Linked DNA regions of Homo sapiens: region 2 is linked to region 1. The links come from fine-mapping of genetic effects on gene expression. A gene starts in region 1. The other region holds a variant in brackets. All regions are shown on one strand. Distances are from middle to middle.

The links. PIP is the estimated chance that this variant, and not a neighbour inherited with it, causes the effect.
Region 2: its variant is fine-mapped to the expression of PCK1 in tibial artery (GTEx, PIP above 0.99).

What each region holds. Positions count from the first base shown.
Region 1 is chr20:57,554,310-57,569,941 of GRCh38, forward strand. PCK1 (phosphoenolpyruvate carboxykinase 1) reads left to right here and starts at 6,801. Exons shown (of 10, transcript NM_002591.4): 1 at 6,801-6,894; 2 at 7,063-7,326; 3 at 7,762-7,943; 4 at 8,387-8,590; 5 at 8,719-8,906; 6 at 9,256-9,418; 7 at 9,860-10,084; 8 at 10,173-10,304; 9 at 10,731-10,826; 10 at 11,041-13,812. The coding sequence starts at 7,103. The coding sequence ends at 11,495. RefSeq lists an enhancer at 14,378-14,878.
Region 2 is chr20:57,573,937-57,589,568 of GRCh38, forward strand. No RefSeq gene overlaps it. Among named protein-coding and RNA genes, the nearest start is that of PCK1, 21 kb to the left of the region's middle. RefSeq lists an enhancer at 12,397-12,691. The variant G/A (reference allele first, on the strand shown) is at 8,557.

The DNA of each region.
Region 1 (15,632 bases):
CAAACCCACCATGGGCTTCAGGATCTGTGGCAGGGAATGCGTACAGTGTGATAAAGGGACAGGACTTCCCCAGTGGCAATGACCTTAGAGCGTATCTCATCCAAGTCTGCACTGCCCAAGTGAGGAGAATGAGGCCTGGGCAGGTTTCTGGGGGAGGTGGGACTGGAACCAACCCAGGTCTCCTGAGTCTTGTTCCGTGTAAACTGACTATGGGATCTTGTCTTCATTAGGATGCTTTTAGCTGCAAACAACAAGGTCACCCAACTCCACGCAGCTTAAACGACAAGGGATGCTTCTATCTCACATTCTAAGAAGTCCCCAGAAGACTAGTGCCAGACACAGGAGAGTAGCTCTAGAATCTGCTTGTCCTGTTTCTGAGGGTGATTCTCCTATTATTGCCCTGGGCTGCAGCCTTCATGTAAGTGAATGGTCAGCATCACAGGGGGGTGACATCGCTCTCTGAAGGGCGAGATCCTTCCTGGGATGGAGGTGGCGTGCAATGTTGGGCTGTGGCACGTGCATGGTTTCTCATGGCTGGGGCGCCATTAGGCCTCCCCATAAACCTGACAGAGAAAGCTCCAAAGAAAATACGCCAGCTTTTACAGTCACTTTGCTGTGGGTCAGTGGTGATTGAAACAGGAGACACCCAGCCCTCCCAAAGGTTCTAACACCTGGATATTTAACATGTCTTCTGGGCACATGTTTGCAGCAAGAATCATGCTTTAATAACAGGCACCAAGCAAAGTGGTGTAAGTCTAGATACATTTTTATTTCCTTATTGTGGGAAAAAATACATGAACAAACAAAATCACAAAACTTCTGGGGAGAGAGTTTTTGAGGATATGAATTTTCTCTGCTGGGTACATTCAGCCCTGAGCTCACTGCCTTACGACAGCACAGGCCATGTAGCGAAGCGGGAATGATTAGGTTGAAGTCTGGGCAGGGTGATCGGTGTGTTAGGGACCTGCCTGCACCCTGAGTGGGCTTTGGATACCATCCTCCCACTACTTGTTCCCACATCTTCAAAATAAAAGACTGAACGATATAATCTTTTTTAAAAATTGAGATGAAATTCACACAACAAAAAATTAACCATTTTCAGGTGCAAATTTAGTGGCATTTACTACATTGACAATGTTGTGTAATGCCCCTCTGTCTAGATCCAAAACATTTCTCCCAGAGGAGATCCCCCAACCCATTGAGCTGGAGTGACGTCATCTTTTAAGGACCTTTTTAATTATATGATTCTATGGCATCAGAATAGGCACTTGACTCATTCAGCTCTGTAAAGACACCCTCCAGACTGCAAAGACATTGAGATAATCCCACAAACATGAAACTTCTAAATATTTGTCCCTAACAAACACAATTGAGGTGGGGTGGATGACCTGAATCGCCCTGGTGGATGACTTTGTGGCTGATCGTTACAGGGCTGACTGGTGTTTTCCTGCTGTCAGAAGCTTCATGATGGGGCCAGTCGGGTGCCCAGTGAGTAGTATCCCTGGCAACAGAGACCCAGGCAGATTTGCGTAAATACCTTTCGTCCCAGGACATGGGATTTACACTGTGTGTTTCTCGTCACCTTCAGGAAAACCACTGTCCCTTTTTTTCTTTGCCAGATAAGAGTCAGGCTTTCCTACAAATTCAGATTCCTGAACCAAGGGGCATTTTTGTGGTCATCCCTTCGGTGTTCCCGTCACTGCCGTTGGTGGCTGGGGTGAAGTGAGGAGGTTGTGGCTGTGTGTGTGAGAGCCTTAGCTTGGGAAAATGGTGTCTTTGCCGTCTCTGGTTCTCAACTCTTCAGCACAACTTGGTTGTGCTGTGTGGATTTTCAACATGTTCCAGCTGTGAAATTCCTTATACCACAAACATCCAATATGGAAGCCGGAAATGTACAACAGGTCAAATCAGAGATGCCATGGGTGAGGAGGGCTTAGAGCCCGTCTCCTACAGCCTTTCTCTCTCCTCTGTGAGGGGTGAGTGGAATCCCCCTAAATCCCTTAGAGCCCAGTTGGGAAAACACGGACCTTGACTTTACATGACCTCCAAGCACTGCTGTTGAGAGTGTGTGTTTGTTTTTTTTTTTTGAGATGGAGTCTCACTCTGTCACCCAGGCTGGAATGCAGTGGTGAGATCTCGGCTCACCACAACCTCTGCCTCCCGGGTTCCAGTGATTCTCCTGCCTCAGCCTCCTGAATAGCTGGGATTACAGGCATGCGCCACCATGCCAGGCTAATTGTTTGTATTTTTAGTAGAGATGGGGTTTCTCCGTGTTGGTCAGGCTGGTCTCAAATTCCTGACCTCAGGTGATCCGCCTGCCTCAGCCTCCCATAGTCCTGGGATTACAGACGTGAGCCTCCGCACCCGGCCCAGAATTTCTGTTCTTTTATTGGCCTCCAGGTAACCAAGAAACACCAACATGTGTTGCAATCAGACTGTCCTCTGAATCCTCCACTGTGAGACCCCGCCAAAGTCATGGCTTTGTTTTCTGTTGTTCATCTGGAATGCAGCCATTCCCCACACCCACCTCCCCGGTCACACCTGCTGCATCTTGGCTGTCCCTGCGCGTGTTTTCTGCTGTCTTTGTCACTGCTCCATCCTGCATGGCATTCTACAGGCTCGTCAAAGTCCAGTTCACCCACTCTTCCAGAACCCTTCATGGTAGGCTGCTGGGAGAAATTGGGCTACAGTCCATCACAGGTGCAAAATGACACCTGAGAGGTGGCCCTGTCACTGACCACTTCTTCCCCAACACATGCTCAGTAGACTAAGTGTGGTGGACAGGCGCACCCTGGCCTGGGGGACCCAGAGGACTTGTGTTTGGAACTCCCCTTGCTTCCTTGGGTCTGCCATGACTGTCTGGCCCCCTCCTGCAGGGGCCTTGTATGAGCAGTTCGAGGAACGTTCTCACTAACTGCAAAGCACTGTACCAATGTCTTGATTACATTTTAGATAGCAGACAGTGGCCCTGGCTCTCCCACTGGAACTGTCTATGTGGCACTTGGCCATGTACAACTTCTTTAATTGGACCATCATGTAGGTCTGATGATAAACCAAATACTCTAACATCAGGGTGGGGGTCTCCCCAACTCCATCTTAAGTCTTTGAGGAAATTGTTTCTTAGGCAAGATAGCTCCATAACTTGTGGGACCACGTGCAAAATACACAGGGCCCCTTGTTCAAAAAGGACAAAAAAAAAAAAAACCTGTGTTCCTTTCTCCCATGGTCTCTCTATCTGTTGTGGCATGTTTTGCATTTGCTGTTTGATGTTGCGCTCCCTTGGGCAGGGGATGCTCATGGGAATGAGTGCAGACCCTCATGGGCGCACAACTCTGACCTGACTTCCCTGCCCTTGTGCTCAGACCCTAGTCGGGGTGGAGGGCAGCAGTGGTCACCTAGCAGGAAGAGACAGGGGAGCGGGCAGCTGAGGCTCCATCCTTAGAAGCAGAAAGGCTGAGGGAGGCAGAACTGTACAAGAGCCACGCCGCGTGCCCCATCATCCCTTCAAATGTAGAAGTGACACAAACTTAGAAGATCACTATGAATTTCAAGACAGTGACCCCAGAGCATGAAACTCCAAGAGAAGAGCCCCCTTCCAAGAGTGAGGCATGCTCTTGAGACTATGAAGTGGACCCTAGGATCAGTATGAAGTAGGTGCTCAGCAAGTGCTTGATGACTATGTGCTGGGAGTATAGACAGGAAAAGGACTCTCAGTTTGAGGACACATCTAGAGAACTGGCAATAGTAGCTGCTCATTCACTGTTGAAGGAATGAATATGATTCCTTTCTCGACCCTCGTCTATACCCAGCTGGGTTGAGACCCTCAGTTTCCTCATCTATAAAATGGGAAAGATAACAAAGGTACCTACATCGGAGAAAATCATGGAATGCATCCCATTTCTGGCATGCAGAGAAAGCCCAGTATTATGAAGATTATTATGCCCGGTGCTAGAGACATAGCAAGCATTTAATAAACGTTTGAGCTGAGGCTTCCTAGAGAATATGAGATTGCAGCAAATTGGATGCAAAACTTCTCTTTACCTTTTTAAATCCGTCTAATTATCTCGTATCAGGATATAGCTGGTGTGGTCACAAAGCAGGGAAAAAGCAATCGATATCCCTGAGTAACTGCAAAACATGGAGTGGCCCCAGGAAGGTGCAGGGAGGAAGTCCCTTTTAGTTTGAAACTATTTTAGTGTCCGATCTTTCTTTCTCCTTCTTTCCCCAATTTTGTATCTGGGCTCAACTTTTTATACATTTTTCAAAAGAAGAGCAGCCTTGGACCTAAGAAAATCTGAGCCTAAGGAGCTCCCCAAAAGCTAGGAGGTCTCTATGGCATCCGTCCCAGAAACAACTAACGCAACTCACAGGCAGCGTGAGCCACCTCCATGCCCCACCCACTGAGCACACACTGCAAAGTCCACTCGGCGGGTTAACTGGGGGTCCTCAGGGATCCCACCAGCAGGGTGGCTGTTTGGCTGCTTCTTCGGGTCCCTGTTGAAACCAACAGACAGTAGTTAGTTTTGAGGCTTACTTACAAATAAGCTGACAGTCAGATGAGGAAGACCCATGCTTCCGGCCAGCCCCTTGAAATTGTTGTCAATGAGTCCCCACTGGGGCAGGGAGTCTCTAAGGACAGGAAAAATGGGGGCCCGAGGGCATCATCTGCCAAGACCTAAGGCAACTGTACCCATACTTTTGCCTGTGTGTCCTCAAAACCCCTCTACTTTATCATGATTCTTCTTCCAGAGAACTCTGTCCTTTGAGGCAAGTCTGTAAACCAATGTTTGCTTTTTAACATTTTGACAAGGGACAGTTGCGGGGGAATCATTACCGTCCTTCCACGCTGTAAATGCAGGTAATGAAAGGATCGGATGAAGGTCGTTGGTGACTCACTGCTCTGACGTTTTACTTGAACTAGCTGTTTCTCTCCCAGAAGACTCAGAACATAAGCACCTGGAATGGATGGGTCGCATTTAGGACTCCAAATGAGTTCTGCTTTCCCTTTTTGTTTTCAATCTATGTGCTCTTTCAGGTACTCAAACCTGTTACCGTTTTATCAGCAAAATGGGACTTTCTACCAATTTGGTGGGATGAGTCTCGCCGGGAGTGATGTGTGTGTCACGGAATTGTGGTCATGCATCGGGATGGCTAATTCACTGATGTCAGATGCTAACGAAGTGGCCTCGGCTACTGAGCATCACGTCACTGTTGGGTTTAGACACAACACGATCTTATGTATGGATGACAGCACCACTAATAACAAATGCCAGTGACCTAAACGGGGAATAACTTCAAATGAAACAAAAAGCACCTCATATCATATTTATCCTGAAAGACACAACTGGCTGAATAAAATCTGAATACAGGAAACATAGCAATGGGTTGATAATTTTGGTGGAACTTGATGATGTGTGACCCACGCCCAACACAGTGTGACCCAAGCCCCCAGGAGGGTTCTCTAAGTGAGTTTGGTCGGAGGCTGCCATTCACAGTGACTTGTATTTGCCACAGCAGCTCTTTCTAAGCCCAGTCCTGGGATTATCTCAGGGATCATCCCACACCCCAGCGGGGAGATGGGCCAAGTCCCCACCTGACCTCATCTTAGGTAGAGAGGCTTCCATGGAAGTGTGGGCTGGCTGTGGGGGGTTGAGACCTAGCCCCGTTCTTTTGACATTTCACCCTGTGTTCTCCAAACTCCAGCAAGCAGCTTCCATAGCTCATTAAATTTGACTGAAGGTCTGATGGCTTGCAAAGCAAATTCTTTACAACTGTTATAAAGGTTTCATTGCTTAAGCATATAATCTAGCAAAACTGCCAAGCCCCCTCCACTCCCTAAACTCTAAGACTTGCCAGGGAAGAGAACAGTGGCCAGTGGACTGCAGGAGTAACTGCACTCAGCCCAGAACTCCCTGGAGGACACAGGGAAGGTTCTGGAAAGGTGGCGGTACCTCACAGGGAGAGACGTGGTGCTCCAGGGCCCAACTTGCTCATGTTCAGATCCTCACTCTGCAACCCACCAGCCGGCTGTGAGTGGCTACACAATCTCTGCCTCAGTTTCCCTATCTGTACATGGGTTGTTCATAGCCTCCACCTCAGAGGGTAGTAATGATGCCAAGCTCTTAGAACAGTGCTCAGCATGTGTGCATCCTGTGCCTACTCTATGCCAAGCACTACAGAGAGAAAAATGAACAAAATAGGGAGAAATCCCTGCCCTCATGGAGTTTACATCGGGGCAGGGGGCGGGGGCGGCACAGAGCAGACAATCAATACAGTGATTAGCCCCCAGTTAGGTTAGGCATTTCCAATCTTTGCCAATAAGCCACATATTTGCCCAAGTTAGGGTGCATCCTTCCCATGAACTTTGACTGTGACCTTTGACTATGGGGTGACATCTTATAGCTGTGGTGTTTTGCCAACCAGCAGCTCTTGGTACACAAAATGTGCTGCTAGCAGGTGCCCCGGCCAACCTTGTCCTTGACCCACCTGCCTGTTAAGAAAAGGGTGTTGTGTTTTGCAACAGCAGTAAAATGGGTCAAGGTTTAGTCAGTTGGAAGTTGTGTCAAAACTCACTATGGTTGGTTGAGGGCTCGAAGTCTCCCAGCATTCATTAACAACTATCTGTTCAATGATTATCTCCCTGGGGCGTGTTGCAGTGAGTTGGCCCAAAGCATAACTGACCCTGGCCGTGATCCAGAGACCTGCCCCCTGACGTCAGTGGCGAGCCTCCCTGGGTGCAGCTGAGGGGCAGGGCTATTCTTTTCCACAGTATTTAAAGCTGGGAGGTTCTGCCACCAAGCACGGCCTTCCCACTGGGAACACAAACTTGCTGGCGGGAAGAGCCCGGAAAGAAACCTGTGGATCTCCCTTCGAGATCATCCAAAGAGAAGAAAGGTAAGTAGAGCTTTGCATTTACATTTTGAAAAATTACAAAGATGAACTCATTTTTTTCCTGAGAGCAATAACTATTTGGCAATGCACAGCCCTGGCAAAAGGCCGTCGAATGTGTTTGAAGGTGTCTGTTGTTGTTTTTGTTCAGGACGCTTGCGTTTTCTATTTCAGGTGACCTCACATTCGTGCCCCTTAGCAGCACTCTGCAGAAATGCCTCCTCAGCTGCAAAACGGCCTGAACCTCTCGGCCAAAGTTGTCCAGGGAAGCCTGGACAGCCTACCCCAGGCAGTGAGGGAGTTTCTCGAGAATAACGCTGAGCTGTGTCAGCCTGATCACATCCACATCTGTGACGGCTCTGAGGAGGAGAATGGGCGGCTTCTGGGCCAGATGGAGGAAGAGGGCATCCTCAGGCGGCTGAAGAAGTATGACAACTGGTAAGCTCGGCCCCCGCTGCCTGTCCCAGCACCCTGCAGGCAGGGCTCCCCTGCGTCTCCTGGGAGTTGGTGGAGAAAGGTGAATGAAGGCCTTCGGGTAGTTTCAGACTCTTGAGAAGATGAATGCAATGGTCAGAACCATACAGACTTGAATTTTGTGACATTAGTGGGCCAGCCCAAGCTTTAAATGAGGTGTGTGCACAAAAGCTCTGCCAACTAGATTCCTGATTAAAAAAAAGGCAGCCCCTCTCCTACAGACCAGGTCCTAGTGGAGTAAATGTCCACCTGGCCATGTCTTAGATGGTCTGTGTGTTCACACTGATGGACTGTTGTTAGCGTGCTCAGCACTCTGCTAGGCATGGAAAGCCACGGTACTGAAGGAGATGGTTCGCTGCCCGTGGTGCTTGGCTGAAAGGAAGCCTGTGATTTTTGCAGCTGGTTGGCTCTCACTGACCCCAGGGATGTGGCCAGGATCGAAAGCAAGACGGTTATCGTCACCCAAGAGCAAAGAGACACAGTGCCCATCCCCAAAACAGGCCTCAGCCAGCTCGGTCGCTGGATGTCAGAGGAGGATTTTGAGAAAGCGTTCAATGCCAGGTTCCCAGGGTGCATGAAAGGTGAGCGGAACATTGATTTGATTGGGTAAAACAGCAGAGAGCCTTTTCTTATTTACATCTATCCTAATGGTAATTCAAACAATAATGGAAGCTCCCACCACCTCAGATGTCTTTCAGTTCCATACATGAAGTTGGCAATGTATTGAAAATGCACATCCCTCTTCTGCTTTTACAGACTGTCTTATACAAACGTGAAAACTAGTTCCATGCATATGGGTTTTAAATAGCTTGGTGGGACCCAATTGCACATTTATGAAAACTCTTTAATTTCAGCAGGCTGTTCACTTTCCAGTGGCCTCTTCTAACCCAGGGGGCTGGTGACCAGCAGGGTGTGGTGGTGTTAGTGGAACACCGTGAAAATGGGTCTACCTGGGAAAAAAATGCTGGTCGTGTTCGAAGTCCAAGGTCATTTCTCACCAGTGCCCACCCATCGCACCCTGTAGGTCGCACCATGTACGTCATCCCATTCAGCATGGGGCCGCTGGGCTCGCCTCTGTCAAAGATCGGCATCGAGCTGACGGATTCACCCTACGTGGTGGCCAGCATGCGGATCATGACGCGGATGGGCACGCCCGTCCTGGAAGCAGTGGGCGATGGGGAGTTTGTCAAATGCCTCCATTCTGTGGGGTGCCCTCTGCCTTTACAAAGTAAGTGTATTATTTCAGAATCAAAAGTCAAAATAAAAAAGAAAGCTGAACGCAAACCCCAGTGAGTGCCTCGGGGACCCCCAAGCAGGGCCCTGGCGCACTGACTTGGGAGGGGTCCTTGTTCACAGAGCCTTTGGTCAACAACTGGCCCTGCAACCCGGAGCTGACGCTCATCGCCCACCTGCCTGACCGCAGAGAGATCATCTCCTTTGGCAGTGGGTACGGCGGGAACTCGCTGCTCGGGAAGAAGTGCTTTGCTCTCAGGATGGCCAGCCGGCTGGCCAAGGAGGAAGGGTGGCTGGCAGAGCACATGCTGGTGAGCCTGCAGGAAGCCCTGATGTGCAGATGAGAGGCCTGGGGGGTGGCAGAAACAAACAGCATTACAGTTCCCACCCGTCAGCACACCTCTCTGAGCGTGCAGGTTCCCGGACAGATCGGGAAACCCCACCAGTAATGATTAGTTTACACATATACATCGCTTTTGAAGGCCCCCAAACACCAGGGGACCATAGAGATCCTTTGGACTTCATGATTCTGGGAGTGTTTGTTTGCACTGATACCTGAAGAAATAGATCTTGAGGGCCTACATTCCAACCTCTGGGCTGAAGTACCAACCTCGGGGAGAAGGAAACAAAGATCACAATAAAGAATCTTGTCCCCAACAGATTCTGGGTATAACCAACCCTGAGGGTGAGAAGAAGTACCTGGCGGCCGCATTTCCCAGCGCCTGCGGGAAGACCAACCTGGCCATGATGAACCCCAGCCTCCCCGGGTGGAAGGTTGAGTGCGTCGGGGATGACATTGCCTGGATGAAGTTTGACGCACAAGGTGACTCTTTTAGACCCAACTCTTGGTAACGATTGGACTCAAGCGAATCGTTGGCCTTCGAAACATGTCACATTCTCCTCAGTCCAGTGTTTGGATTTTTAAACTCTGTTAGTCCAGAGTTGGCCAAGCCTTAGAAATATGGATCCTGTAAGAATTCTTCAACTTAATATTCAATCTGGATTGAAACTGGGCCATATGTTGCTGTTTGTTTACATACATACATTTGTTTAAATGGTATTGGTGGAAAATTGTGGAGGAAGCAAGAGTCGTAAACGTATCAAAGTTGCATATGATGCTTGGATGAAAAGAGATAAATGCATATTCTAGGGAGGGAAAAAAGATTTGAGAAGTTGGCATAGAAATTAGTCCGGCAATATATAAGAGTATATGTTCTGCTTTGCCTGGCACTCACTACTGCTTCTCTGGTTTAAAACTCTCCAGGTCATTTAAGGGCCATCAACCCAGAAAATGGCTTTTTCGGTGTCGCTCCTGGGACTTCAGTGAAGACCAACCCCAATGCCATCAAGACCATCCAGAAGAACACAATCTTTACCAATGTGGCCGAGACCAGCGACGGGGGCGTTTACTGGGAAGGCATTGATGAGCCGCTAGCTTCAGGTGTCACCATCACGTCCTGGAAGAATAAGGAGTGGAGCTCAGAGGATGGTGTGTCCCTGCCAGAGGCCTTGGTGTGCCGGGCTGCAGGGACTGCCTGTTTGAGCCAGGCACTCACGAGCCTTTCTCTGTCTTATAGGGGAACCTTGTGCCCACCCCAACTCGAGGTTCTGCACCCCTGCCAGCCAGTGCCCCATCATTGATGCTGCCTGGGAGTCTCCGGAAGGTGTTCCCATTGAAGGCATTATCTTTGGAGGCCGTAGACCTGCTGGTGAGGCTCTCCTTCATTTAGGCTGGGAACATGGGTGTGCTGGGTACCGAAGGGCATCTGTGAAATCTCTCCTTTTCCATGACCTTGTCAGAGGGTGCCCAGGGGCTTCCTTTCTTGAGCTTCCTTCCCAAAGATCCAGAATAATTGGCAAGTTCAAATGTAGAACCAACCCTTCTGGTCACCTGGAACCTTTCTGAATCCCTGATCTATTGTAGCTTGATCAAATTTTACTTTTTACTTTGTGGCCTCAGTCATGTAACTTTGAGTTAGCAGTTTTCTGCAATTTAGCTTGGTGAACGCAAAACTAGCTCGATTACAAAGTTATTGTCTTGCCGTGTCTTTCCGTGTTGTGAATAACACCACTGGTTGTGGAGTCTGAATTTCAAAGCCTCTGATGAACATTTCTCTTTTTTTTTCCTGCTAAAGGTGTCCCTCTAGTCTATGAAGCTCTCAGCTGGCAACATGGAGTCTTTGTGGGGGCGGCCATGAGATCAGAGGCCACAGCGGCTGCAGAACATAAAGGTAAATCAAAGTCCTGATCTGAAACCACAGAGAAGTGGGATTAGAGCACTCTTCGTCACTCTTATGTCTCTCTCCTTTTCTGTGTCTGTGTGTGGGGAGAGAGAGAGAGAGAAAGAGAGAGAGGAGAACAAAGCATGCTAATGTCAACAATCAATGGCGTCAGTCTTGCCTAGGAGAGCCTCATTTACTAATGAACTCCCTCTCTGTTTAACAGGCAAAATCATCATGCATGACCCCTTTGCCATGCGGCCCTTCTTTGGCTACAACTTCGGCAAATACCTGGCCCACTGGCTTAGCATGGCCCAGCACCCAGCAGCCAAACTGCCCAAGATCTTCCATGTCAACTGGTTCCGGAAGGACAAGGAAGGCAAATTCCTCTGGCCAGGCTTTGGAGAGAACTCCAGGGTGCTGGAGTGGATGTTCAACCGGATCGATGGAAAAGCCAGCACCAAGCTCACGCCCATAGGCTACATCCCCAAGGAGGATGCCCTGAACCTGAAAGGCCTGGGGCACATCAACATGATGGAGCTTTTCAGCATCTCCAAGGAATTCTGGGAGAAGGAGGTGGAAGACATCGAGAAGTATCTGGAGGATCAAGTCAATGCCGACCTCCCCTGTGAAATCGAGAGAGAGATCCTTGCCTTGAAGCAAAGAATAAGCCAGATGTAATCAGGGCCTGAGTGCTTTACCTTTAAAATCATTCCCTTTCCCATCCATAAGGTGCAGTAGGAGCAAGAGAGGGCAAGTGTTCCCAAATTGACGCCACCATAATAATCATCACCACACCGTGAGCAGATCTGAAAGGCACACTTTGATTTTTTTAAGGATAAGAACCACAGAACACTGGGTAGTAGCTAATGAAATTGAGAAGGGAAATCTTAGCATGCCTCCAAAAATTCACATCCAATGCATAGTTTGTTCAAATTTAAGGTTACTCAGGCATTGATCTTTTCAGTGTTTTTTCACTTTAGCTATGTGGATTAGCTAGAATGCACACCAAAAAAATACTTGAGCTGTATATATATATGTGTGTGTGTGTGTGTGTGTGTGTGTGTGTGTGTGCATGTATGTGCACATGTGTCTGTGTGGTATATTTGTGTATGTGTATTTGTATGTACTGTTATTGAAAATATATTTAATACCTTTGGAAAAATCTTGGGCAAGATGACCTACTAGTTTTCCTTGAAAAAAAGTTGCTTTGTTATTAATATTGTGCTTAAATTATTTTTATACACCATTGTTCCTTACCTTTACATAATTGCAATATTTCCCCCTTACTACTTCTTGGAAAAAAATTACAAAATGAAGTTTTATAGAAAAGATGGATTTGCTTTGCTTGGTTTTTCTTATTTGAGCTACCAAGAGGAGAGAACTCTGATTAAATATCTTGTGATTTAAATCCTGCCCCCTCCCCAAGAAGGTGGGGACGTTCAGAATCACACTTGAAGAGGGGGTGCATTGCCTGGTCCCAGGGAGAAGGAGGGAGCAGATGGGGAGGAATGAGGCAGGGAACCATGGTTGGGGTTTTCTGAATTTGCTGAAGCCACTAGTTGGCATCCTTTAACAATTCTACAAACCTTTAGATGGTGAGGCTTATGTGGCAGGACTGGGAGGGTTTAATGCATGCTTTTTGACAGTTTGGATCTGGAGGGGTCTCAGGCTTCCACAAAAATTACATTGTGGACAGTTTCATAGGATTTTGCCTTTTAACTCTTCAAAGCAACAGTTTTCTCAACTGTCATCCCCGCGGGGGAGCAGAGGAAGACAAGTGAGAAGGAAAAGGGGACAGGATCTGGGTTGAGCAAGCATTAATTGAGCGCCTTCTGTATCCCGGACATCATGCCAACACCATGGGCTGCCCGAGAAGAGAGGTGGGTGGTTTGGTCCCCAGCTCTGCCTTGAACCCTCACCTGCTCTCCTCTACTCCCAGTGTTTATTGGATATTCCAGAACAGTCCAAACGAACCATAAACTTTATATCACAGATTCAATCTGTGTAAATACTATTATCTTCAAGTTGTAGTTTCTTTCTTGGGCCCAGGCTGTGAAATTGGCTTCACCCCTACCACACCCCAGCGGGCAGGCTTGTTCTTATGTCACACTCCACCCCTCCAGTCTCCTCAACTGGAAAACTTGCCTCTTTTCCTCACTTCCTCTGCTCCTTACAATGGCTTCATATGGAAGGTGAAGCTGAGATCACCCCAATTTTACAGGTGAGGAAACTGAGGTCAAGCTAGGAGCGTCCAGCGGGGCTGAGAAATTGCCAGGATTTCCTTCCCCATTAAGGAGCTGAGAGTCTTAGCTCCAGACACGTTGGCTTGTTAGAATATCAAAACCACCGAAGGGGAAAAACCACTTACTGGAATTAAATGCTATCTGCTGTATTAGTTTAAATCAGTGGCGTTCAAACTTGTTTCTCCTTTTCACTGCGGAACACGTTCTTGACATGTACTTGACTCAGAGTCCCATGTCTAAAGGAGACAGAGCCCAAGGCAGCCCACCTGAAGCTGGGGAGGGAGTCCAAAGTGCAAGCCACCTGGTCTCCATTTCCCCGCCCCTTGGGGGCCTTTGGGCAGCTCCTTGGACCCCTGAAAGAGGCCACCAGGATAAACTTTGTTAAAATGCATGCCTTGTGCCCCACTGTCCTATTACGGGCTTTCAGTAGTCTCCACTCCCTCGGCAGGCAAAGACACTGGCCATCTCCAAATTCCCTCCCCTCCTGCACAGCATCAGCCACCTGGCAAGCAGTCTCACATAGGACCATTTGCCAGCAGGCCCTGCAAGCCTGGGGGACAGCCTAGAGGAGGTGACTTACATACACAGCATAAGAGTTTTCAGGAGACCAAAAAGATTCAATATATGTCATTAACTCCTGACTCAGTTTCCCCAAACCATGCCTCCTGAGTGCTCCCTCTGTCTCCAAATCCTGATTTTTGTGCGCGGACCCCTGTCTACAATAAACAGGATCCTATGACTTCTTTCTTCAATGTTCTCTTGTCGTGCCTTCAGATGATGCAAAGTATGTAAGCTAAGCCCACTTGCAGGAAGCTCACAGAAGGCAAGAGGCTCATCACTTGAAAATACGGTTGGAGTGAGATGGAAAGCCCAGAGTCTCCTGATTCCTGGTCTACCACTGGACCACATGACTCCAAAACCAACACTGTGACTGACGTCCTCTACTGGAGTCCAGTGTAAGAGCTGTCCCCTGACCTCCAGGAAGCTGTGTTGCAGTCTGGGTTAAAGACCAGAAAACAATAGTTACACAGCAAATGTTGAACCAGGACAACAAACCTGCCCTTATTCCCAGTCGAGTCACTTAGGGGGCACTGACAGGTAGGCAGGCGGGGTGGCTAGGTGGGGCCGGGGCACACTTGGGAGTCAGGAGTTACAGGGCTCTTTCTCTTCTCTCCCTCTCCCTGGGGACCCACCCTAACCTGGACACCCCCGGGCTGCTCACTCGGCCCTCTGGATGCCAACAGCATGCACCTTCCAGAGTGCACGGTTTTGGCTGTAAGACCGCAGGTCATGGGCCCTGTTGAGCTCCCTTGACCTGCAGCCCTGCCAGAGGGCACCGAGCCAGGGGAGCAGCTTTTGCTTTGTCCTCACCTTTAGCAATTGCAGCGATGAATTCATCTATGGGAAAGAGCTGGCCACCTGCTTCCTCCCTCCTGCCCTTTTTCCTTCCCTGGGGGCAGTAAACACTGACAACCTTGAACACAGCAGAGCTCTGCCGCTGGCCAGTGGGGTCTTCTTCTGTCTCCTCTGTGCCACTGGGGTCATATTACCTCTGGTGGAGTTCGATAAGGATGAAATAAACTAGCCCAGCGCAGTGCCGAATCTGCAGTCAGGAGGGTCTGCGTGTGAGCCGAGGCCCTACATCTCCCTGGAAGTATGCCCTTAGGTGATTGCACGAAATGCTGAGCCTCAGGTTCCTCAACTGTAAAATGGGAGTGATGATTACTTTCTTCAGGGGGTTGTTGAAAAGCTCCAATGAGATGATGCCAGCCAGGGACTTGGCACACAGCTGGGCCTGGTGGGGGCGGTTGTTCTCATTTTTATTTCACTCCACCTCTCCGGGGTATGGGAGGTCGCTCCCCACCAAGCCGGCTGTCCCACTGATGACCGGCTGTGGCTCTGGAGTCGAAATCTGTCCTCTGTGCAGCCTCCACAACTCCTACTTTCACTGTGCATTTCAGGAAAAGGAGCTGAAGAGCGAAGTCAATCAGGAATATCAGAAGCATTTTTTTCTCTTCGTATGGCGAGCCCATCCCTGTAGGGAGCCACCTTCACCCTTCTCAAACATTTTAGCAGAAGACTCAGAGTTTGGGTCCAGGAATTCTATATTTAAGAAATGTGTCCTAAGGGAAAAATCATGAAAGTCTGCACAGATTTAGTTGCAAGGATGCTCATTATGGAGTTGTTTATCATGGCCAAAAATTAGGAACCAACCTAAATGCCCAACAATAGGAGATTACTTAAAAGAAATTGTAGTCCTTTTGAGAACAGACAACTAGGCAGCCATTTAAAATGACTCTGCAAAAGATAAGTTATTGACATGCAATATTTGCCACCGGCTTCACCTGTGAAGGTAGATAATGAAAGGGTATCGAGTATTTGTACATTTATGCTTAGAAAAAAAAACTTTAAAAATACCATACAATGGTAACAGTAGCAGCTGGGTCCTGGGTTGTTTGATTGGGAGAACTGAGTTGCCTCATTCATATTTTCACCACATCATTCAGGCTACAGAACTTTGCTGCAAAAAGGGGAGCTTGGCAGAGGCAGGGGGTGCCCCCAAATTGAGAAA
Region 2 (15,632 bases), 20 kb after region 1:
GAGTTATGTTAGGAAGCCTTCTGGGTCTTTTAGAGGCAGCATTTGGGAATCTGAGTCCCTAAAGCCTCCTGTGACCACAATGCACAGTGAAACCTGCTGTTCTGTCCAAGGGGCCCTGTGGACAGCACCCCCTAGAGGTGTGCGTTGCACCTCTCCTCTCAGAGCCCAGATGAGAGCGCACAGCTGAGAGACACAGCTGTTCTGAGTCAAGCCTTGCAGGCTGGGATGGGGATTCAGGAGGAAAGGTGAAGGTGTTTCCACCTTCCTTTGGCCTCGGAGTTTGTCTGCGATCAGCTGCTAGTGAGAGTTTCCTTCCTGGAAAGGGACTGGGTCCAGATGTCCTTCTAACTTGGTTTAGAACAGACTTCCTGTGTCACTCAACTCCCCAACAACTCGGGCTGTGGGAACAGGGGTTCTCTTTCTACTGGGTCTTCCTGGCCTCATGGACAAACTGACTCCCAGGAACTGGGTTACATATAACTCAACTTTCGGTGGGTTCACCTGATGCAACCTCATGTCCTTCATGTCCTGCCCTGAGATGTGTCAGAAGAGGTCAGACCTCCTTGCACCATGGGTATGGGTTCTATCAGTGAAGTGATGGTCCCTGGGGCCCCTCTAACATGGGGGTTACAGTCACTGCATAAGTGTGGAGAACAACTACTGATTCAAGTCTGTGCTGGTAACAGCAGGGTCAACTTTTCGTGTTGCTGAGCATGAGAGAATGTGCTTTGAGGAGTGACATTTTTGTTCTGTTCCCAGCTGGCGGATGCCTCCCTAGAATGGCAATTCTCCAAGATCAATCTGTCACTTTCCAATGAATAGTTATCGAACAGCTTCTGACTGCCTGGCACTTAGAGTCAGCCCAAGTGCTTAGATGAGCTGATCAGGACTGTCTTTCCTAATGAATTGGTCCCACAGGGGGCCCTGTCCTTTTCCCAGGGTCACTGAAAAACTTCAAGCCTCAAGGTATAAGGAGTAATATTTTCTCTAAGGAGAATCTACGTTACTATTCTGCCCCATTCAGAACTGCCTGATGGTCAGTCTCCTGTTCCATCCCCTCACATTTTGGAATTCTGCCTGGGCAGTGAGGGAAGGTGCATTTGCATTCCACCTCCCCCCTTCCTTCCTTCCTTCCTTCCTTCCTTCCTTCCTTCCTTCCTTTCTTCCTTCCTTTCATCCATCCAGTCATCCATCCTTCTGTCCATCTATCCATCCATCCATCCTTCCTTCCTTCCATCCATTCATCCACCCTTGTATTCATTGTTCCAGCCTTTACTCTTCCATTTAATTATTCTTTCTCATATTCTCCAACTATCTATGCCTCTGGATGCTTGTCATCCATCTGTACATCCATCTAATGGTCCATCAACCTCCAATAAGTCACTCATCTGATCTCCATCCAGTCCATCAATGATCAACCCTGCATCCATCCTCAATCCATCCTTTCATCTTATCACTAAGGACACATAGCTCCCCATCTGTGAGAGCCGAGTTTGAATTAGCCCTGCCTGGTTTTTCCACATGCCCTCAGGATACAAATAACTGCACCCAGACATAGCAGACAAGCTAGGTGTCCTGAGAGGTGTAGACAGGTTGTTTCAAAGTTTCAGAGGAAGGAGAAGGAGCATCAGGGAAAGCTCCTCAGAGGAAGCAGTGTTTGAGTACTCTCATAAAATAACATCATATTTGGAAAGTCAAGATATAACTGGAAAACTGTAGGCATTCCAGCGGATTATGGGATCTGCGTGAGGATTGGGTGGATGGAGGTAGAGTGGTTGGAGAATCAACAGAGGGTGAGTAGAGAGGTAGATGCTGTGTAGACGGCTGGAGGTTGAAAGGATGGATGAGAGGTTTGGTCAGATTAAAGGGTGTGGAAGTGGGAACAGAAGAAAGGTAGTGTGGCCCCCTCCCATGCTAGGGCAGATTATGAAAAACCATGCCGTGTAACTGAGCAAGGGTTGATTTTGTTAGACAGGGAGGTAGAGAAGCTTGTGGATGATGAGCGAGCCCCCAGGGAGAGTGGCCTTTTCCAAAAGCTCCTCTGGTATTGTATGCCCTCTGCACTGGGGGTGGTTATCAGTGCTGTTCTTCTCAACTTGGGGATATGGGGGCCAGAGACGCCATGGAGTACAGGCCCTAACCCTCTAGCTATTCTGCAGTCTGCCATCAATCAAGTGCTCATGGCTAAAACTCCAGCCAACAAGGAACTTGAACAACACAAGTCTAGAAAACAGGCTGTTGTCAAGAGTTTGACTGATTGATGGTTTGGAGCTCAGAAAAAGTTTCCCCATGGTCATTTCTTAATGGCCATTTCAGAACAAAGGGGCAGAGGAAACCAAACACCTTCCCAGGGTCTTGCCTCTGGCAGGGGAGAAATTGAGGTCTTTGATGGTTTCAGATGTAAGTGCTACCCTGCCGTTAGGCTAAAATTTCCAGTATTTGAAAAGTCCCAAGCTAATTTTCAGGGAGGAAATTAGATGAGAAGTGGCTTTTAAAACATGGAGAATCTTATGTTTAAAAACTTGGGTTGCCAAGGAAACTCTCTCTTCAATACTTCCTTGCCACCATGTTGTAAATTAAGCCCCTAACTGAAAGGTAATTAAGGTAATTGGTGGCACTGCTGCAGAGAGAATGTGGCAAGGCAGCCGGAGGGAAGGAGCCCCCAACCTTTTAGGGCACACAACCCCCTTAGCTCTGGGGGAAGCTGCATCCATTACTGCATGTGAGGGCCTTGAAGGCACCTTTGGAGAAGGCAGACCAGCAAACAGCTGTGAGCCATGCTCAGTGAAAGGCCAAGGAAAGGAAATCTGAAATGTCACGCTGCTACCCTGTTGGTTTTGAATAGGTGAAAGCTCCATGAGTCAGTTAATGAGCAGATTGGGAAGGGCTGCAGTGTTCTGGCCCCCTGCAGCCAGGTTAATGTATGTGGTATCGGGAGAGAGCTTCAGCAATTGTTTTCTGTCACTTTCAGGAAGGAGGCAATTAGTTTGTGGTCCCAGCCATCCAGCAATCCATCTGTCCATTCATTCATCTCTCTATCTGTTCATTCATCTGTCCATCTGAACATCTATCCACCCACCGTCTATCCACCCACCAAGCCAGCCATCCACCTATGTATTTGTTTATCCACTCATCCATCTATCTGTTCACCTGTTCATCCATCTACCCACTCTCCCCACATACACAGCTGGATGGATGGGCATATCAATGAATGGAAGGATGGATGGATGGATGGGTGGATGGATGGATGAATAATGGGAGGGGTGAATGAGTGGGTGGAGAATAGACAGATGGATAGTGGATGAGTGCATAGCTACTATCCATCTGTCCACCTATCTCCATTTACTTATCTATGCAGCCACCCACCTACACGTCCATCCATCCATCATCTATTCATCATCCATCCTCCATCCGACCGTCTATCAGTTCATCTCCTGCCCATCCATCTAGTAAGTAAACATTTCCTAAGCATCCATAATTATAGTGACAACATCTCCCACTCACTGAGAGATAAGGTATGTCAAGGCCTTTCCAGGCACAATCTCTTTAGATCCTTCCCTCAACACTGTGACTTCTGGAATGTGCCCCATTCCAGAAATGAGGCAGTAGAGAGGTTCTCACAGCTAGCAAAGGTGAGAGCTTGGATTTTAACTCTTGTCTATACCCTGGGTGCAAATTCCTAGGAGAGGGGCAGTGGCTTTTATCATCATCTATCTCTGCATCTTTGAGCCTGGAGAACAAGATGTGAAGGAGGGTGGGGACAGAGAGCTTGGCTGAAGCACTGGGAAAGGGACCTGTGTCTCAGGCTCCAGGGGCCAGGGGCTGTCAGTGACCCAGGTCCAAATGCCCTGGCTCTGACCTGCCCTAGCACACCCTTCTGCACATACCTAGGCCTTTCCTCTTCCCACGGGGTAAACACTGCCAGCGTGGTCAGGTTGCTGGTGCCAAGGTGAAAAGTCCATGGATCAGAAACCGGGCCCCCCTGGGAAGTGCCGTTCCCAGAAGCTGAGGCCTTTCTTCCAGTAAACTTTGGCCTCCTTCTTTCTGGCCGTGACTCCCCATGCACAGGGAGTCCAGGTTCACATCAAAGGGGTGGGGAAGGGGAGAGAGGGGTGTGCAGCTGAGCACCCCATGGCCCAGCACTGCACTGCGCTGGGGCTTCAGGTGCTTCCTCATAGTCAATTCAGTCAACATCCCAACTGGGGGCGGGTCTCAGTCTTCTCACTTTGCAGAGAAGGAGACTGAGGTTCATAGTGGCAAAGTAACTCTCCCCAGGTCACATGGTTAGTTTCAGGGAGAGAAGTCTCATCTCGAACCCTGATATCAGCAGGCAGCAGCTGGAGCCAGACTGCAGTGGGCCTAGGGGTGATAAGTGGGCTCCGCTGTCAGCCAGGCACTTCTGAGCTGTGTGACCCTGAGTGAGTCCCTTAACCTCTCTGTGTCTCAACTCCCTCTTCCTACTTACAGGGTTGAGAAGACTCACAGAAGGGGTGTACACCAAGTGCTTTGGATACTCTCGGCACTCAATAAATGTGGGCTCCGTGCAGTACTTGTCTCCTGTGTGTAGTGGAATTCTGCAGGGAAAAGTTTGTTGGGCAGAGGAGTCCCACTGCTGCATGCTGGCTGAAGGGCTGCGGCTGCACTTTGCGGGAGGCTGAAGAGCCAGGAGAAGCGAGGATCGATCTGCTGTCATTCAGCCCCAGGAAGGGCACCCTGAGGCCTGACAGCTCCTCCACCACTGTGGCAAACTGCAATCCCGGGAGAGGCTGCCACCTTGCTGAGGGATGGGTGGGAGCTAGTCCCTGGGAGGGGGTTCCCCTGCATGTGTCCTTCACAACTCTCTTCACAGGCAAAACCCGGGGACAAGTGTTAAGAGCTCTTTGTCATCCATCTAATGAACATTTGTTGAGTGAACCCCCGAGGAGCAGGAGCTGTCTTGTCCTTACCTCCTCTGACTCTGGTGCCCAGAACACTGCCTGGTGACACCCACTGGAGCTGACCCTCCCAAGGGCTCCTGTGTACCAGCAGAGAAGGCATTTCCAACAGGCTGCCTCTCCGAGCCCAGTCTACCCTCTAAGGCAGCCATCACCTGTGTCCTGCTCACCGGGCTTAGGGGGCCAAGATAGCCAAGGTCACTGGGATCCTAAGGAACAGAGTGGGATTTGAACCCCAATGTGTCTGAGCCCAGAGGCACTGCCTCCACCACTCTCTCCATCTGCTGGCCCCAACTGCTTTGCAGATGTTACCAGTGTCTACCGGTTGGTAAAGGCTGGCTCAACCCTGGAGCATCTACTGAGTGCCGTCTCCACCGCAGGGGCTGGGGGACTCACGGGAAAGCCAGACACAGTCCAACTGGGACCAATCCTGGAGCATCTACTGAGTGCCGTCTCCACCGCAGGGGCTGGGGGACTCACGGGAAAGCCAGACACAGTCCAACTGGGACCAACCCTGGAGCATCTACTGAGTGCCGTCTCCACAGCAGGGGCTGGGGGACTCACGGGAAAGCCAGACACAGTCCAACTGGGACCAAGGGCTTCTGAGGCCACCGCACATGCTATGGTTTTCTGCCAGGGGTACTTGCCCAGGAGTCAGCTCTGGAAACACTTTGGAGCTGCTTCCCAAGGCCAGAGCGAAAGCCTGCCCCACTTCTCCTTCCTGGAGCAAAATCTGAATATGTACTCCCTATGGAGTTTGCCCCAGGTGCCAGGGGCTGTGCTGAGCCCCCTCCCATGGTCTCCCCTGAAAGCCCGAGGGAAATGCTGTCTTCATTCCCATGCTGTCAATGAGACAACCATGGGGAATGAGCCGTGAGCACCACCATCTTTCTTGTCCCTTCGAACATCTCCAAGTCAGATAATCATAACAATAGTGGCAGGCATCCCACATTCGTATAAGCTGGCAGTCCGTCCTGCCTTGGCCCCCGGCCCAGTTAAGCAGAGGGAGGTGGTGCTGTGCCCTGCATCTCTATGGATGGGGAAACTGAGGCTCGGGGCTGGGAGGAGGCAGATCTGAGGGCTTCTGAGTTTCTCCTCCTCCTGCAGACAAAGAGAGTCACCCAAGGTCATCAGAGCTGCCGCGGCGGCAAAACAACAATGTTCTGACTTCTGGTCAGGTCCTCCTTCCATCACGACGCTCCAGCATGGGAGGGGAGGCAGGCGTGGGGGCCGTCAGGGGCCTCTTTAATTCATGAGTTACTGGCAGAAGCACAATCTCCAGGGAAGATTGATGACCGGCTGCAGGTATTGGTGGGCGGATTCATAAAGCTGTCGGCAGCAGGCCGTAAATCAAATGAATATTCAAGATTCCGCCTCAGGAGCAATTCCCCGGCTCCGACAATAACAAGATGGATGTGGGCAGGAAGGCAGGCGTGGTGGCCTCAGAAGCCCTCGGCCCTGGAATGAGGCACCGCACTTGCTCATAACTTCAGCATCTGCCTGGGAAATCTGGGCAGCTCAGAAGAGGGAGGAGAGCAGATCGTGGACCCCAGACCCAAACGCGGACCCCATGTTGAGGATTATGTTTTATTGAGGCATCATTTACTTGCAGTAAAATGCACAGGTCTTAAGTGGAACATGGGAGGAGTTTGGACAACTGTGTATAATCACCACCCAGATCAAGGTCTAGAACGCCCCATCATCACCCCAGAAAGTTCCCTTGTACTCTTCCCTGCTCACCCCCCATCCTGAGCCCTACGCAGCCACTGCTCTTCTTCCTCTCACTGGAGCATGTGGACTTCTGTGGAGGGCGTGGACTTGTCTGCCTGTTTTGCTCAGCTTTCTCTGCGTGGCTGAGCTGGGAGCAGCTCCCTGTCCTGCTCTGCTGCGCCGTCCCCCATGGCAAGGGTCTGCCGCCATGGTATGGGCCATTCCACCCTTCATGGCCACCTGGGCTATTTCCACTTTTGCCTATTCTGAGAGGCTGCTGTGAATTCCTGCAAGGGTTTTTCTGGGTGCTTTTGTTTCAGGTAAACACCTGTGAGTGCAAGGGCTGGGTCCCAAGGCAGACATAGGCTTTACCGTTTTAAGGAACTGCCAGACAGATTTCCAAGTGACTGTGCCTCTGCATTCCTGCCAGCAGCGGATGAGAGTTCTGGCGCTCTGTCCTCATCCTTGCCAGCGGTGTTTATGACACCTGTTCAGGTGAGTGCAGTGGCATCTCACCAGGAGACCGCCCCCCCCCACCTTTTCTCAATTCACCAAGTCTCCACTGGTCCTGGGACACAGCCTTTGCTGTCCTCTCACGAGCCCTTGGGGAAGGCAGCTCATCTTTGTGGCTGAGTTCAGGAGCCGAGTCCCCACGATCTGCCCTCCCCACCGGGCTGCCGCGTGTTCCTGGGGCTGCCGAGGCTGGGACCCAGAGCTGCCTTTTTAAGAACCTTCCCATGGCTGCCCACTGCTCTCAGGATGCAATGCACTCTCCTTCCGGTGGTCACGAGGCCCAGTGTCATCTGACCCTGGCCACCTCTCTGCTGCCACCCCAGGCCACCATCCTACCTGCTAACCATGCTCTGATCTACTGCCTGGGATCAGGTCCCACCCAGGACCTTTGTCCTGGCTGTTCCTTCTGCCTGGATTCCATTCTCCAGCCCCTTCTGTTGGCAGCTGTGTCCAGGTAGAAGGAATGGCTGCTGCCTCTGAGAGTGATGAGCTTGCTGTGGGCTAGGTGCTGGGCACGGTCACCAGGGGGGTCCCATCACGAACCTCATCCTTCAGACCAGGAAACTGAGGCCCAGCAAGGTCACTGGAACTGCCCAAGGTCATGCCACAGGTCGGGGGCAGAGAGGAGACCAGCCTTCATCTCAAGCCTGTGGAATCATCCTCTCTTCCGGAGTGGCCTGGCATCTTGTCTGGGAAGGAAGCTCTGGGCTGGCCTTGGGCAGAGGCTAGATGATGTGAAATGCCAGCTCCTCTTGGGATTCACACTCCCCCAGTAGGGCAAAAAGCACACTCGTGCCTCTTCCTCTTTTGGAGAACATTTCCCCATTTCCCAACTCAGCATGAACTTCTTTCCTAATTCTGGGCCATATTGCTTCACTGCCATTAGCCCCCACCACAGACAAGTGTTCCGTGGGATCAGGAGGCTTTAGAAGTTAACACAGGACAGAGGTGGCCAGCACCACTAGGGTTCCCCTGGTATCTGGAGCCCCTGTCCATCCTGGTACAAGACCAGCCCCCAGGACTCATCAACATCCCAGAGGTCAAAGTCTCCGCAGGTGGGACAAGCTAGAGCAAATCTTGTCCCATGTACTCTAGTCCCTTCGTATGCTGTTCCATCCGGGGCAGGCTGGTGACAGAAGACACAGTGCCCCCCACCCAGTCCAGGTAGCCCTGCCTTCTCTCCCCAGAGCCGAGAGCACTAATAGCCCCAGTTGTTGAAGAAAGGGACCTGTCCCAGGGTCTTCACTTTGTAGGTCCTGCCAGCAGCCCTGATTTCTATGTACGAATATTGCTGTCATCCATCAACTCCCCTCAAAACAACTCCCCAAAAAACAGTCACCTCAGATTCCCCCCGTTGAAGTAAAAGTTTCTTTTCCTAGACTTCTAAAGTCCAAGAAGG[G/A]ACCTCAGCAACACAGGCACGTCTCCTGGGCAGAGGCGTGCGTCATGGAAAACTTGGAGGCTGGTGATTGGGCCGTCTCTGCTGCAAAGTCAAGTCCCCGAACGCTTGAAAAACAACATAATGTATTCCTGTCTGCAGCTCTGAGCGAAAGCTCATTTTGTGTCCTGTGTTTCCATTTCCTGAGGATTAATAAGTGTGGAGGGGAACTCGGGCTTCGTGCCGAATATTTATTTAGTCAATATACGCATCAATTTAGCAAATTAGAGATCGCAAGCCATTTCTAAGCAATGCTGTAAAAATAATAGCTGTACTTTAAACTTGTAATGGATTTTGGTTTGGTGGGAGGTGGTGGCTACTACGTGCCTGGTACTTGATAAACAAAGAAGTTTAGTTCTCCTTAAACTTCAGTGGATGTCTGAGTCATTGGAGATGTTTGTTTAAAAAGCAGACAGATCCTATTGCCAAGGGCACAGGCTGAGGGGTCTGGGGTGGGGGCTCTGGAACACAGTGAAGAGTGGGCTTCCGGTGAATGGCCCTGTGTCTACCTCCTGGCTGTGGAGGGCAGGGTTCCTCCGCCTCGGCACTGCTGTCATGAGGGGCTGTGTGCTTCTCCAGTGTGGGGGCTGCTCTGTGCACTAGAGAATGTTCAGTCTCACCGCCATCTCTGTCCACTAGATGTCAGCAGCAGCAGCCCCCTCCCCAGTTGCGACGATCAGAAATGTCTCCAGACATTGGCACGTGACCCCTGGCAGGCAAAATCTACCCCAGCTGAGATCTACTGATGTAGTGCAGGGTTCTCAGGCTCTCTGAGCCTCATTTCTTCATGGAGACACACATTCTCACAAAAAAGCCTTCTACCCCACAACCCGGTGAGAGCACGGCTGCTGCTCACATTGCATAGCTGAGAAAACTGTGGCTCAGAGAGGCCCAGTGACTTGCCCAGGGGTACACAGCCCACCCGCAGCTGACCTGGGGTACGCAAGGCACTTCCTAGTCCTTGAAATGCTCAGTGGCCCCTTCTCATCCCTCGAGCCTCTGTCCCAATGTCACCTCTTCAGAAGGGCCCTCGCTGTCTCCCTGCGCTAGGGTAGGCTCTCACCCCTGCTCTTCCGATGCTCTTTCTTACCCCTCTGCCGTGTTCCCCACAGGACTTGGCCTAGCAAGCATCGTGACTGCGTGCGTATTGACTTGTCCTCTTCACTGTCCCCCACTGGCATGTGGGCCCCTCAAGGTGGGGGGTTCCTGAACTTGCTCCCTGCTGTGGCTCCAGGCCCTGGCGCAGAGCAGACGAATCATAGAGCAATCAAATGGCTCATTGGAAAGGTTCCCAAGGCAAGGCTGCCGGCTGCACCACACCATTCATTCTCCCCATATTCTTTGCTAACAAGGCCCCTGACTTTTAGCTCCTGGTCATATGGGAGTGTGACCAAGTGCTGGCCAGTAAGATGTAAGTAGAAGTCTTGTGTGAAGTCTTTCAGGAAGTGTCCTTACAGGAAGAAGCAAAACCCTGCTTATCCCTTCCTTTTTCCTGATGACTGAAGGTGGGACATGATGGCTGGAGCACAAGCAGCTGCCTTGGACAATGAGGCAGAAGCTCTGTGTTGAGGATGGAGGGTCAACACGGTAGAAGGGGTCTGGTCTTTGGTGACTTCTAGAAGTTGCCTGACCACGCTGAGCTGGGCTTCTGTTACATGAAGGTGAAGTCATCTTCTGTTTCATTTAAGCCATGCTGCCCCTGAGTCTCTGCTCCACGCACCACACTGAACCCTAACCAGTCCTCTAGGCTCTGAGACTGCCCAGGATGGAAAAGGGAACAGATGTTGGTTCTGCCCAGGCTGTTCTCAAATAAGTGGGTTCCATGAGTTTCTTCAATTATTATAGAAGGAGCTCCCACTTGCACTGTTGAGGCTAATCTGCCCAACTCCCAAGGTCAGGGGATCACTCATGCCCCTGGAGTGACAGGTGTGGGTCTGAGGGTCAGAGGGATGTGAGGGGAAGGAATGAGCTAGGATTCAAGTCTTGAGGTACCAGATCCTGGACCTGTGCTCCTTAGATGACACTGCTGCCTCTGACTGTCAGTCATGCCCATCCATCCATCCATCCATCCATCCATCCATCCATCCATCCATTTCTTCATTCACTCAATGAGTGTTCACAATATGCTTGCTAAATGCTGGGGACAGGGTAGTAAACACTACAGCTTGTGGAATCCTGGAGTGAAACAGACTAGTAGGTGGAGATAGACCATGAGCCACCAGACAGAGAAACAGACATGGAGATTACAAAGTGCTAGGCAGGGAGTCAAAGGGGAGATGGAATTGAAAGTGACTGGTAGGGTGGCTTCAGAGAGAAGAGATGGGAAAGTACGCTCTGATCAGGGGAGGTGAGGTTGAGAAGTGAGGAAGGGGGTACTGAGGGCTATGAGAGCTGGGAACGGTGCCCCAGGCAGAGGGAAGAGCCGGTGCAAAAGCTCTAGGCTGGGGGTGGCCCAGGCAGGTCAGGGGATGGGGAGGCTGGAATGGGAGGGGCCGCTCTTGAAGGATTTTTGGTGAGGGGATCAGACCATGGGGACCCTGGTCAGGGAATTGTAAGAAGAGCGGGTACTACACAGGCTCTTACCCAGTGCTTTGCATGTTGTAACTGATATTTTTGGTACCAACTTGTGTGCCCTCACCATTCACCCAGTGGTGACCAGCAGCAAACACCTGTCACTTCCTGGGCTTGGAGACTTTCTCAGACCACTGTAGCTGCTCTTCCCATGCACCGGCAGGCTGTTCACACAGTCCCTGGCTAGAAGCATCCTGCAATCAATCTCTGCCAAGATGGGTGGATAAATACTTTGGCTCCCTCACCTCCCGGCTGGAATAAACTTGATCTCAGGGTTATTAATTGTGCACTCTTCACTGGCTCCCAAAGTTCCCAAGAAAAGTTGAGCCCACAGGGATAACTTACCGGCTAAGGTGCCCTGTGTTGCTGTCTGCCTTCCCCTTCCCTGGCTCACTTTCCCTCCTCCTCTGCTAGGGCTTCCTGGGATCGCTCATGTTCTTGTCTCCTGGTCTGCTCCTGGGACAACCCAGTCTGAGACACAGAATTAGCTCATTTAGTCCTCACAGTGATCCCAGAGAGGAGGCACTATCATTGCTCCCATTGCAGAGAAGAAAATCAAACCGAGGTACAGAGACGTTAAGTCATTTGCTCCAGGACACACAGGAAATGACAGAGCTGGGACTTGAGCTCCATGGTGGCTCCGAGTCTGTGTGTTGACCCCCCTGCCTGCAGCACCGTTTATATTTGGTCCTGACTATGATTTGAAGTAGGCAGGGGTTTCATGCAGACCAGCGGTTCTTCAGCTGTGGTTCTTCCCCAGCGACAGCAGCAGCACCTGGGAATTTGTCTGAAAGAGTGATTTGGGTGGCCCACCCCCAGAGCTCGATTCTGTGGGTCTTGAGGTGGGCCCGGGAGGTTCTAGTGCATGCTCCAGTTCGAGAACCACTGGCATAGGCGAGTGGTGTAGACACGACGTGCGGGAGAGGAATGGGAGGCAGCAGAGGGGTCTCCATCCCAGGGAAGAGAGGCTTCAGGGGAGAGAAGGGGGCGCGGGGGGTGGAAAGGGGTCAGATTCAGGCCACATTTGGGGTTGAGCCGACAGACTTGGAGATGGATGGGGTGTTGGGGGTGAGGGGAAGAAAAACCAAAGATGACCCCTAGATGTTTGGCTTCTGCCAGCAAGTGGATCTCAGCACCATCCTGAGTGGGGAACACCAGGGAAGCTGGCTGGGCAGGGCCGAGGGGTCCATGTGAAAATGAGGGGGTGGCATGCATTCAAGGGGGGCTGCCCCCTTGACAATTCTGCTTTGCCCCCCTCCCCAACCCTGCATTTTCCCGAGGCAAGTCTCTTTCTGGGAACCTGACTCCCTCTGAGAACAGGCCTGGCTGAGCAGCCTGGGGAGGAGTGGTTGGGGCAGTAGCCAGGGCCACTGGGTGGTGTGGGGGAGGGGTGGTGCACACGCTGCAAAGTCCAGTCCTGTGGCCTGTGAAGCGAGCAACAACTGTGGTACTCGGGGAACCTCTGTTCCTGGAAGGAATGATCAGGCAGAGGCTAGCTCACCCCACACCCTGGCTGTGATGTCCTGACTCCGAAACATCTAAAGCTCAGCGGGGCAAAAAAAGATAGCTGCATTTCACCGTTGCATTTCAAAGCTTTCAGACAATGGTTGCCACCCAAAGATGGAAGCCCCCAAGGCAGGCCACCCTGCTGCGCAAAAAGGGCTTTGGCTGGGACACCAGTGGGCTCCCTGTGAATGTTCACAATGGAGAACAGAGTTATGCTAACACCAGCAACTGATTTAAAAAGTAGGTGATTATTTTAAAATAGCATTTTAAAATATTTTCATCATTTGATTGTGTGCAGTGTTCACATGTCTAGGAAAGCAATCTCCATTACAACACAAGGACACACGGGCAAGGATTGGGTGGTGGGGAAAGGGGAATGCTTAGGACTTGCAGAAATATGGAGTTCAGTGGAGAGCTGTAGAATGGAAAGGATCTGAAGAGACGCCATACCAGGCAGGAGGACTGCCGCGGAGAAAGGGATGGCGGTGGGAATGACCGTGTCTGGCCATCAGCTGGCAAGGTGGCCCTCCGAGCTCAGTAGGAGATACCTGCGATGGGCCAGGTAAAGAAGCAGGTCTGACTGGAAAGGTAGGTGCGGATTCACTGAGCACAGGAGTGCGATTTCTCAGGGCTGGCAGGTAGAGAAGGAAAACAGACACTTGTCTCTGGAAGGGGATAAAATCTTTGATTTTACTCAATCTGATCCAACATATATTAATTGTGCACCTACCACATATAGGCACAGTTGTACACATGAAGATACAATGGTGAACTGGACAGACATGGCCCTGTCCACAGAGCATACACTCTGAGGGTGACAGCTTAGAGAGCATCACGTGATGTTATTGTGGTGCGGCCTGACGGGGTGAGGGACCTACCAAGGTCACACAGGGCTGGATCAGAGTCCCAGGCCCTGACCGCCAGCTCAGTGCCTTTCAGCCTGTCCTTGAGCAGGGACTCCTGGGAACACACTGTGGATGCACCAGGTGGCCCCAGTGCCCTCCTTGGCAACTTCAGGAGAGGGTAGTGAACTCTCTACCCTGTGGATTCTTCTGGAAAGAAAAGAGATGTTTCCTTGCTGCTGGTGGAACTTTAACCATAAGGAACCTACTTTTCTCCCATCTTTCTCCATACAGAAAGGGGTCTCTTAATTTGGGGCTGAATCTCAGACAGACTGAGGGGAGGGTGCCCCCCAGGCAGATTGCCCCTTGGGCATCCTAAGTATGTATCCTGAATTCACAGGAGGCATGGGATGAATTTAGACTAAGGGTGGAGAAGGCAGCTGTCAGAATTTTCAGCCTCCTTCCTTGGCCTGGGCAATTCTGCTCAGCCCAAACTTGCTCAGCCAAACCAAAGCCCTTTGGGGCATGGCTGTACCTCCTTAGAAGACGTCTGAGGTGGTATGTGCTGTTGTCTTGGCACATCTTCAGGAAAGAGGCCTCATCTCCAGCTCAAGTAATTTATCCTGGAATTCCTTACAACCACAAACAATTGACCCTGAGAGGGGCTCGAATAAATGTGAATTTCTCCATCTTATCACACTCCCACAGATGTCTTAGCAACGAAGCAGCTGGGGCCAGGGAGCATCTAGACTCACTTCTTAATTGGTCTCTCACTTAATCCTAAGCCTTCAGCACTTTCTCGCCTGGGTGTCCCTTCTTCATGCTATGCACATATACAAAGCCACAGAGTCATACGATTTAGGACCGGAAGGGATCTTTAAAAAATAACCAATGTGTTTTGGGTGCTACGAGCCAGGGACTGTGTTAAATGCTCAACCAGGATGAGCTCATTTGGCTTCCACTGTGAAACTGCTGCATTAGGGAGCTGCCCAGTCCAGCCTCTCAGAACACGCCACCTCAGGGCCACAGACACGGAAGGAGCCCCCACCACCCTGCAGGCCCCCCCCCCGCCCACCGATTTGTCCTAAACAGCCCTGGTCTTTTAACGAGGCTTTTGAGGTTGATGTTGCCCAACATTAAGCAGGAGTGAAGAGGAAGCAAGATGGAAAAGGGGCACCCACTCAAGTGAGCTTGGACCCTCAAGCTGGCCCTGCAGACCCCACTATGTCCTGGGGAGGCCTGGCAGGGGGTTCAGCCTCGCTGTCTTCGGGATGGTGATAGAGCCACCTATACTGCATCTCCAGCCCTTGTAAGCTCTGCCCGTGCTCTTTTCCCTACAGCCATGGGAGGTGGGGGCCACCTCTCATGCCCATAGCTGGCTCGTGGGGTCATGGTGAGAATTAAATGAGAAAACACATGTGGAGGGCTTAGCGTGGAGCCCTGTGCCTGGTGAGCTGTGACAGGTGCAAGCCTCTCCTGAGTCCCACTTTACAGATGGGGAAACTGAAGCCAGAGAGGATAAGTGACCAAGCTGGGTTTATGATTGGTCCTCCTTACCCCTGATCCCATGCTCCTTGTGGACTCGAACGCTGGATGCAGCCCAGACCCTGAACATGTGTCCAGGGAATCAGGGCACCAGTAAGGAGGATGAAAATGAGGCTGTGCACGCCGAGACAGTGGTGTTTTCCCAGCATGCCCCATTAAGGAGGGGCTATCAGTGCTTTCCCTGTATAAATGGGGAGACCAGACCTTTGCCTGAGGCCACACAGGGAGGCAGGATTTGAATTCAGGTCTCTCAAACAGCAGAGCATGAGTGCTTAACAACCACACACTACCGCCCCTACTGCTTCCTTCTCACAGGCAGAAAGCCAAGATCCCCCTGAAGCAGGCGCCCAAAGGCTGCACCGTTTCTGCTGACACCCCCATGACACACCTGGAGGTGGCCACGGTTGAGGCTGTTGGTGGCCGGGGTGTGTCATGGGGAGCATAAGGACCCCACAGTTGCACTGCCCAGGCTGGCATCCTGCACAGCCACTTGCCACCTGTGTGATCCCAGCCTGTGTCTGCTGCTGTGAACCTGGCTCAGAGTTGGATAAGCAGAGGAGAGCACCATGGCACGGC